Regions from separate parts of the Homo sapiens genome. Here region 1 is linked to region 2. Evidence: fine-mapped expression QTL. Tissue or cell type: whole blood. Region 2 holds a variant in brackets; the other region holds the start of a gene. All regions are shown on one strand. Distances are between the middles of the regions.

Region 1 (5,234 bases), 290 kb before region 2:
AGGGTGCTGACTGGTGCGTTTACAATCCCTGAGCTAGACACAAAAGTTCTCCACGTCCCCACTAGATTAGCTAGATACAGAGTGTCGATTGGTGCATTCACAACCCCGGAGCTAGACACAGGGTGCTGATTGGTGTGTTTACAAACCTTGAGCTACATACAGAGTGCTGATTGGTGTATTTACAATCCCTTAGCTAGACATAAAGATTCTCCAAGTCCCCACCAGACTCAGGAGCCCAGCTGGCTTCACCCAGTGGATGCTGCACCGGGGCCGCAGGTGGAGCTGCCTGCCAGTCCGGCGCCGTGTGCCCGCACTCCTCAGCCCTTGGGCAGTCGATGGGACTGGGCGCCGTGGAACAGGGGTTGGCGCTCGTCGGGGAGGCTTGGGCTGCACAGGAGCGCACGGCGGGGGTGGAGGCTCAGGCATGGAGGGCTGCAGGTCCCGAGCCCTGCCCGGCGGGGAGGCAGCTAAGGCCCAGCGAGAAGTCGAGCACAGCAGCTGCTGGCCCAGGTGCTAAGCTCCTCACTGCCCGGGCCGGCTGGCCGCTCCGAGTGCGGGGCTTGCCAAGCCCACGCCCACCCGGAACTCGAGCTGGCCCGCAAGCGCAGCCTGCAGCCACGGTTCCCGCCCACGCCTCTCTCTCCACACCTACCCGCAAGCTGAGGGAGCCGGCTCCAGCCTTGTCCAGCCCAGAAAGGGGCTCCCACAGTGCAGCGACGGGCTGAAGGGCTCCTCAAACGCGGCCAGAGTGGGCGCCAAGGCCGAGGAGGTGCCGAGAGGGAGCGAGGGCTGTGAGGGCTGCCAGCACGCTGTCACCTCTCATTTTTGTGTCTGTATACTAACATATATATAGAAAAAAATATTCGGCCCGGTGCGGTGGCTCACGCCTGTAATCCCGGAACTTTGGGAGGCCAAGGTGGGCGGATCACGAGGTCAGGAGATCAAGACCATCCTGGCTAACACGGTGAAACCCGGTCTCTACTAAAAATACAAAAAATTAGCTGGGCATGGTGGTGGGCGCCTGTAGTCCCAGCTACTCGGGAGGCTGAGGCAGGAGACTGGCATGAACCCGGGAGGCGGAGCTTGCAGTGAGCAGAGATGGAGCCACTGCACTCCAGCCTGGGTGGCACAGTGAGACTCCGTCTCAAAAAAAAAACCACGTCTCTAAAAAAGAAATAAGGCCGGACGTGGTGGCTCATGCCTGTAATCCTAGCACTTTGGGAGACCTAGGTGGGCAGATCGCTTGAGCTCAGGAGTTCAAGACCAGTCTGGGCAACATGGTAAAACCCTGTCTCTAAAAAAAAATGCAAATATACAAAAATTAGCTGGGCATGGTGGTGCATGCCTGTAGTCCCTCCCAGCTACTTAGGGAGCTGAAGCAGGAGGATCACTTTTACCTGGGAGGTCGAGGCTACAGTGAGCTGAGATGGTGCCACTGCACTCCAGTGAGACCCTGTCTCAAAAAAAAATTTGTTTTAATAAAATAAAAAATAACAATTAGCCATGCATGGTGGCACTGCACCTATAGTCTCAGCTACTTGGGAGGTGGAGGAAGGAGGATCGCTTGAGCTCAGAAGTTCAAGGCTGCAGCAAGCTATGATCAAGGCTGCAGCAAGCTATGATCACCCCACTGCAACTCCAGCCTGGGTGACAGATACTCTGTCTCTTGGAGAAGGAAAAAAAGCTAAAATAATGATCCCCAACAAAAATTGTTCTTAAATTTCATTTTCGGGGCCGGGCACGGTGGCTCACGCCTGTAATCCCAGCACTTTGGGAGGTCGAGGCAGGAGGATCACTTGAGGTCAGGAGTTCAAGGCCAGCCTGGCCAACATGGTAAAACCCCATCTCTACTGAAAATACAAAAATTAGCTGGGCATGGTGGCGGGCACCTGTAATCCCAGCTACTCGGGAGGCTGAGGCAGGAAAATGGCTTGAACCCGGGACGTGGAGGTTGCAGTGAGCCGAGACTGCATCATTGCACTCCAGCCTGGGCAACAAGACCCAAACTCCGTCTCAAAACTGAAATGAGATGAAATGAAATAATGAAATGAAATGAAATGAAATGAAATGAAATGAAATACCTATAGGGAATCTTTCTGTCCATCAAACCAGACAGACCGAATTAACTCTTCTGAGTCGCAGCTTAGAATATTTGACCTGCCTAGGAGCTGGGCACAAGCCGGCAGCTAACCGCCACGTGGGCCTGGGTAGGAGGTGAGATCAGGAAGATCCCTGGGCCCCTACTAGTTCCCTGCCTGGCCTCCTCCCCCACTCGTGTGGGGGTCTACGGAGCCAGCGCTGGGGGTGGAAGGGCGAGGAGTCCTCGACGCTGCAGCGGCGGTTCCGGCCCATGGGGGCGCTCTCCTGCTTGGGGGCGGAAAAGCCGTGGCGCCCCCTTGCGTGGCGCGTCGGTCTCAGAGTCGCGTGACTTCAACCCCCTCTTCGGGAGGCTGGGTCGTCATGATCCGGACCCCATTGTCGGCCTCTGCCCATCGCCTGCTCCTCCCAGGCTCCCGCGGCCGACCCCCGCGCAACATGCAGCCCACGGGCCGCGAGGGTTCCCGCGCGCTCAGCCGGCGGTATCTGCGGCGTCTGCTGCTCCTGCTACTGCTGCTGCTGCTGCGGCAGCCCGTAACCCGCGCGGAGACCACGCCGGGCGCCCCCAGAGCCCTCTCCACGCTGGGCTCCCCCAGCCTCTTCACCACGCCGGGTGTCCCCAGCGCCCTCACTACCCCAGGCCTCACTACGCCAGGCACCCCCAAAACCCTGGACCTTCGGGGTCGCGCGCAGGCCCTGATGCGGAGTTTCCCACTCGTGGACGGGTATGTAGGTGCAGCGTTTGGGCAACGCGGGGTGAGCACACCCTTGGGCAGGAGAGGAGGTTCTGAGCATGCTATCAAGGAGGCTATCAAGGAGGCTCCCTCACACCACCCCTGGATGCCCTCTCTCCTCCATCACCCATGGGTGCCCTTCCCCGCATTACTCCATTCCTGGTGGAATCTAACCCCCTCCCTCCAACCCAACCTCAGGAGGTCTCTATATGGTCTGTGTGAGGAGGTGCCTGGTGGGGTGGAGGAGGGTAGACCCAAGCACCTGATATATCCTGACTGATCTGGAGGCGGTGTTTCCATCTGACCTTCACACCCCCAGCCACAATGACCTGCCCCAGGTCCTGAGACAGCGTTACAAGAATGTGCTTCAGGATGTTAACCTGCGAAATTTCAGCCATGGTCAGACCAGCCTGGACAGGCTTAGAGACGGCCTCGTGGGTGCCCAGGTACCACAGGGACACACAGGGTGCCACAGCATGGCTGCTGGGGGATGTTGGGGTCACAGAAACCTGGGTCAGCCAGCCTCTGGGTGACTAAATACAATGGGGCATGCAGTGTGCCATCATGTGGTTTCTAAGGAGAGTGGGGCCTTGGAGGCCAAGACAGGCTAGCTGCATGTATGCCCAGGTTCTGTGGAAACACGCAGAAAATGACCAGAAAATCCCTGGTGAGTGTGGGGTCTGCCGTAACCACAAAGGACATAGTGGATTGGCCTTGGGGCATTCACATAGCACATGGACTAACAGCAGTTTTTTGCTTGTTTGTTTGTTTGCATTTTTGAGACAGTGTCTCCTTCTGTCGCCCAGGCTGGAGTACAGTGGCACGATCTCGGTTCACTGCAACCTCCGCCTCCCGGGTTCAAGCAATTCTCCCTGCCTCAGCCTCCTGAGTAGCTGGGATTACAGGCACTCGCCACCACGCCCTGCTAATTTTTGTAGTTTTAGTAGAGACAGGGTTTTACCATGTTGGCCAGGCTGGTCTCGAACTCCTGACCTCACATGATCCACCCTCCTCGGCCTCCCACAGTGTGGAGATTACAGGCATGAGCCACTTGGCCTGGCCGTAACAGTAATTTATGATGTGTCGTGAGTCCATCATTTGACTGCTGGCAGCAAACAGTCATCAAGGAACCAGGCTCGGTAGTTCACATCTGTAATGCCAACACTTTGGGAGGCTGAGGCAGGAGGATTGTTTGAGCCTGGGGGGTCAAGGCTGCAGTGAGCCATGATCACACCACTGCACTCTAGCCTGGGTGACAGAGCAAGACCCTGTCTCAAATTTTAAAATAAAAATAAAAAATAATTTTAAAAAAAGTCATCAAGGTACCATGGAGTCATGTAGTGCCTCACTTGGGGCCACTGACCCAAATGGGTGTTATGGGGTCTGAGGCAGGAGTGGCAGGCCTAGGGGGTTGAAGACCGCCCTGGCCTCATTCTGGACCCCTTGACCTACCCTCAGTTCTGGTCAGCCTCCGTCTCATGCCAGTCCCAGGACCAGACTGCCGTGCGCCTCGCCCTGGAGCAGATTGACCTCATTCACCGCATGTGTGCCTCCTACTCTGAACTCGAGCTTGTGACCTCAGCTGAAGGTGGGCCAGCAGATGAGAGGTAGTCAGGATGTCACTCTGGAGGTTCTGTTCCTGGGATCTAACCACTTGACTCTCTACCTCCTTCTAGGTCTGAACAGCTCTCAAAAGCTGGCCTGCCTCATTGGCGTGGAGGGTGGTCACTCACTGGACAGCAGCCTCTCTGTGCTGCGCAGTTTCTATGTGCTGGGGGTGCGCTACCTGACACTTACCTTCACCTGCAGTACACCATGGTGAGCATAACACCTGGCCAGGATGCTAGATGGCATGGTGTGGAAACTGCCCCATTCCTGGCATGGGTGTGACCAAGCCGTTGAGGATGAAGGGGTCCGCAGAGGGAGGCTGGACACCCAGTGGGTCCCTCACAATCCCAGAAAGCAGCTGGTTCTGCACCTGTTCTGGAAGCAGGATGGATGGATAGAGCCAGGGCCCCCAGGCTGTGATGGCCCAAGGTGTGATCAGCTAAATTGCCCTTCCATGGCTGTCCTGCAGGGCAGAGAGTTCCACCAAGTTCAGACACCACATGTACACCAACGTCAGCGGATTGACAAGCTTTGGTGAGGTGAGGACTCCTGTTTTGTACCCCAACCCACCTGCTGCCTACGGATATGTGTGTACACCTTTGCACCCCAACACCCTCCCCCACAAAAAAACCTAATTGTTTCTGCAGAAAGTAGTAGAGGAGTTGAACCGCCTGGGCATGATGATAGATTTGTCCTATGCATCGGACACCTTGATAAGAAGGGTCCTGGAAGTGTCTCAGGCTCCTGTGATCTTCTCCCACTCAGCTGCCAGAGCTGTGTGTGACAATTTGTTGA
Region 2 (5,234 bases):
TTCTAAGAAAACTAGTAGAGAAGCCTGTAGGGGCAGAATTAGCAAAGAGAAAAGAGAGAGATGGTGGCTGGGCTCAGTGGCTCATGCCTGTAATCCCAGCACTTTGGGAGGTCAAGGCGGGTGGATCACCTGAGGTCAGGAGTTCGAGACCAGCCTGGCCAACATGGTAAAACCTTGTCTCTACTAAAAATACAAAGATTAGCTGGGTATGGTGGCGTGTGCCTGTAACCCCAGCTACTGAGGTAGTAGCTGAGGCAAGGAGAATCGCTTGAACCGGAGCGGCAAAGGTTGCAGTGAGCCGAGATTGCACCATTACGCTCCAGCCTAGGCGACAGAGTGAGACTCCGTCTCAAAAAAAAAAAAAAAAAAAAAAAGAGAGAGATGGAGAAAGTAGAAAAGGAAAGCAAGGTGACTGAGTGGCCACAGACAGTTTACCATCAGAAAGAATGAAAGCTGGTTAAAATAAAACAACCCCAGTGAGAGTACAGGAGGCAAGCCAAGCTTCACAGTCACAGAGAGTGGAGACAAGAGGCACGAAATTGGCAGGGATCTGGAGTTAGAGGCAGCCCAAGTCATGTGTAATTTAGTGGTTCACAAAGGAACAGGTGTACTTCAGATAGAATCGAGCAGTACAGGATGTTATACTGGGCTATGCTGACAAACCATCCCCTACTATAGACATTTTCTTAGTCCAGTACACTTGTGTCTACAGTAGGAGCAAAAGAGATGCTGGGCTTGAAAATGAAGTTGAGAAAACAATTTCTCCAGCCGTGGTGTCTCATGCCTATAATCCCAGTGCTTTGGGTGGCCGAGGTGGGAGGATCACTTGAAGCCAGGAATTTAAGACCAGCCTGGGCAACATAGTAAGATGCTGCCTCTATATTAAAATAAAATTAAAAAAAACTTTTTTATTAAAAAGCCAGGCTCAGTGGGTCACGCTTATAATCCCACCACCTTGGGAGGCTGAGCTGAGAGAATCGCTTGAGGCCAGGAGTTTGAGGCCAGAGTTTGAGACCAGCCTAGGTAACACAGTGAGACCCCATCTCTACAAAAAATAAAAAATTAGGCCAGGCTCAGTGGCTCATGCCTGTAATCCCAGCACTTCTGGAGGCCCAGGCGAGCGGATCACCTGAGGTCAGGAGTTTGAGACCAGCCTGGCGAACATGGTGAAACCCTGTCTCTACTAAAAATACAAAAAAATTAGCCAGGTGTGATGGCGTGTGCCTGTAATCCCAGCCAGTCAGGAGGCTGAGGCAGGAGAATCGCCTCAGCCTCAGAGCTCGGGAGGTGGAAGTTGCAGTGAGCCAAGATTGCACCACTGCATTCCAGCCTGGGTGATAGAGCAAGACTCTGTCTTAAAAAAAAAAAAGTATGTCCTAAATGCCACTGGATTATGGGGGTTGGTTTTTTTGTTTGTTTGTTTGTTTTTTGTTTTTGAGACAGAGTCTTTCTGTTGCTCTGTCACCCAGGCTGGAGTGCAATGGCATGATCATAACCCACTATAGCCTGAAACTCCTGGGCACAAGTAATCCTCCCACCTCAGCCTCCCAAAGTGCTGGGATTACAGGCATGAGGCATTGCACCCAGCGGCCACTGAATTGTTCACTTTAAAATGGTTAATTTTGGCTGGGTACAGAGTTTCAGTATGGAATGATGATGAAGTCCTGGAGGTGGATGTTGGTGATGGTTGCACAATACGAATGTATTAGTGCACTGAACTGTACACCTAAAAATGGTTTAAAATGGTACATTCTGTAATGTACATTTTTCCACTTCCCAAAAAAGATTCTAGCCAGGGACCATGGCTCATGCCTGTAATCCCAGCAATTTGGGAGGCCAAGGCAGGAGGATTGCTTGAGCCCAGGAGTTTGAGACCAGCTTGGGCAACATGATGGAACCCTGTCTCTACAAAAAACACAAAAAATTAGCCAGGTATGATTAGCAGGGCGTGATGACACGCACCTATAGTCCCAGCCACTTACTTGAACCCAGGAGGCGGAGGTTGCAGTGAGTCGAGATGGCACCACTGGACTCCAGCCTGGGTGACAGAGTGAGACTGTGTCAAAAAAAAAAAAACCCAAAAAGCCAGGTGTGGTGGCTAATTTGAAATAAGGTTCTTTGTCTGAATTATAAGTGGTCCTGGCTAAATATGCAGATGCAGTGCTACTCCCTGGATTTGGCTAGATCAGGGAGCT[T/C]GTGATGGTGTCCCATTAGTAGGACCAGAGGTACATATATCTGTCACTTTGTGTTTGAAATGCAAGCTTTTTATTTAAAAAGTGAGAAAGGATTCCTTTTAGAACCACATTTTCCTTTTTTTTTTGTTTTTGTTTTTGAGACAGAGTCTCAATCTGTCGCCCAGGCTGGAGTGCAGTGGCGCAATCTCGGCTCACTGCAAGCTCTGCCTCCTGGGTTCACGCCATTCTCCCGCCTCAGCCTCCCGAGTAGCTGGGACTGCAGGTGCCCACCATCACGCCTGGATAATTTTGTTTTTGTATTTTTAGTAGAGACGGGGTTTTACCATGTTAGCCAGGATGGTCTCAATCTCCTGACCTCGTGATTCGCCCTCCTCAGCCTCCCAAAGAGCTGAGATTACAGGCATGAGCCACCGTGCCCGGCCTTTTTTTTTTTTTTTAAATTATTCCCCTTTATCCCCTTTCTCTACTCTGGTTTCCCTATCCCCTGTAAATGTATTTAGTATGTATCCTTTCATTTGTATAATTTCCTATGAAGCATTTTTGTTTCTGTGCATGTGTGTGGGTTTTTGTTTTGTTTTGTTTTGTTTGAGACAGAGTCTTGCTCTGTCACCCAAGCTGGAGTGCAGTGGCATTATCTCAGCTCACTGCAACCTCTGCTTCCTGGGTTCAAACGATTCTCCTGCCTCAGCCTCCTGAGTAGCTGGGACTACAGGCGTGCACAATCACATCCAGCTAATTTTTTTATTTTTTAGTATAGATGGGGTTTTGCCATGTTGATCAGGCTGGTCGTGAACTGATCTCAGGTGATCCGCCCACCTCTGCCTCCCAAAATGCTGGAATTACAGGCGTGAGCCACCGCACTCAGCCTGTGTGTGTATTTTTAGTTTATATAAATAATGTATTAGAGCTCGCTATGTTTTCTTTTTTTTTTTTTTTTTACCAAGTTCATTCATGTGACTGTATTCATCTAGTATTGTTTCTAACTTGCAGAGAACCCCAGTGGGTATATCCCCCACACTTTACCTGCCCACTTCTGATCCCCAGATTGTCTCCAACTCTGCACCTCAGACATGATGTGGTAAATATCTTTGTATCCCTTATCAGTGCATCCCTATGAGAATTTCTTTGGGAACACACATACACACACACACGAGTAGAATTTGTGAGTCACAAAATGCATAGTTTTAATTATATATAAGGCCAGATTACTTGTTATTCAGAACAGCTGTACGATTCTGTATCACTATCAGTAGCACGTGAGGATAGAACCTCCAGTATGTTTTCAGAGGGTAACTTTGGTGTTTCATGGACGAATGTGGCCATGAGAAGCTGGTGACACCAGTGAGTAGGCGCATCCAGAAAACACTTTACTGAGCACAGTGAGTTCATTAATTTATTCATTCACTAATCAGTGGAGGGCCTGCTGTGTTTGTGGGCCTGAGGACACAAAAGAGGAGTAAGTTTAGTTCCTATTGCAAGTATATAGAAGGTGCAGAGGGAGGAGCTCCTGGGGGGGTACAGTCAGAAAAGATTTACAGAGGAGGGAAGATGTAGGGTAGAGAGGAGTTCCAGGAGTTGGTCATCTCAAAGAAAGCAGAAGCTGTGCTATGCAGAGGGACCTGCCGCAGAGTCTTAATTTTTTTTTTTTTGGGGGGGGGTCTAGGCACAGTGTGACTTGCTTCTGTAATCCTAGCGCTTTGGGAGGCCAGGATGGGCAGATCAGTTGAGGCCAGGAGTTCGAGACCAGCCTGGGTGACATAGTGAAACCCTGTCTCTACAAAAAATGCAAAAATTAGCCAGGCACAGTGGTGTGCACCTGTAATCCCAGCTACTCAGGAGGCTGAGGTGGGAGGATCCCTTGAGCCTGTGAGGTTGAGGCTGCAGTGAGCCATGATCAAGCCATTGCACTCCAGCCTGGGCAACAGAGCAAGAATCTGTCTCAAAATAAAAATTATGATAGTGACCAAGATCAGGAGTAGTTAGCTTTTTAAAGGTAATTGGTAGGCCAGGCACAGTGGCTCACACCTGTGATCCCAGCACTTTGGGAGGCTAAGGCAGACGGATCACCTGAGGTCAGGAGTTTAAGACCAGCCTGGCCAACATGGTGAAACCCCATCTCTACTAAAAAATATAAAAATTAGCTGGGCATGATGACACATGCCTGTAGTCCCAGTTACTCGGGAGGCTAAGGCATGAGAATCGGTTGAACCCAAGAGGCGGAGGTTGCAGTGAGCTGAGATTGTGCCACTGCACTCCAGCCTGGATGACAGAGTGAGACTCCATTTCAAAAAAGAATCAATAAATAATTGGTAAACAAAGGGACCGTATGGTGTTTATAAAATTATTGGTAAAATGATGTTACCAAAGGTAATACATAGAAGTTAAAATAGTTGTGTTAGAGATTTTTCCCTCTTAATGACAGATTTGTCCTTTTAATCATAATACAGAGGGTGAGAAGGTTCAGGAAAGTGTACATATAACAAACAGGACATTTTGTTATGACTCCAAATGTAGATAATTTTTCACATGCGTTAAACATAGTTCAGAGGTTCTCAGCTGGTGGCTGCACACTAGGATCACCTGGGGGGCTTTAAAAGTGAACGATAAAAGTGAATGATGAAGCCAGGCATGGTGGCTCATGCCTGTAATCCCAGCACTTTGGGCAGCCGAGGCAGGCAGATCACTTGAAGTCGGGAGTTCAAGACCAGTGCCACTCCACTCCAGCCTGGGTGACAGAACAAGACTCTGTCTCAAAAAAAAAAAAAAAATAGTGAATAATGGTCACCTCACATCCATCAGAACGGCTAACCAACAAAAAACACCAGAAAATAACAAGGGTTGGTGAGGACGTGGAGAAATCAGAAGTCTTGCACGCTGTTGGAGGAAATGTAAAATGGTACAGCCACTGTGGAAAACAGTATGGTGGTTCCTCAGAAAATTAAAAATCTAATTACCATGACCCGGCAATTCCACTTCTGGGTATATGCCCCAAACAAATGAAAGCAGAGTCTAGAAGAGATATTTGTACACCATGTTCAT

The links. PIP is the estimated chance that this variant, and not a neighbour inherited with it, causes the effect.
Region 1: it holds the start of DPEP3, and the variant in region 2 is the best candidate, but not a certain one, in a credible set for the expression of DPEP3 in whole blood (INTERVAL, PIP 0.61).

What each region holds. Positions count from the first base shown.
Region 1 is chr16:67,977,682-67,982,915 of GRCh38, reverse strand. It overlaps DPEP3 (dipeptidase 3), which reads left to right and starts at 2,417. Exons shown (of 10, transcript NM_001370198.1): 1 at 2,417-2,822; 2 at 3,151-3,277; 3 at 4,290-4,419; 4 at 4,508-4,649; 5 at 4,909-4,978; 6 at 5,087-5,234. The coding sequence starts at 2,536. RefSeq lists an enhancer at 2,593-3,093.
Region 2 is chr16:67,690,128-67,695,361 of GRCh38, reverse strand. All of the region lies in intron 1 of GFOD2 (Gfo/Idh/MocA-like oxidoreductase domain containing 2), which reads left to right. Among named protein-coding and RNA genes, the nearest start is that of C16orf86, 26 kb to the right of the region's middle. The variant T/C (reference allele first, on the strand shown) is at 2,196.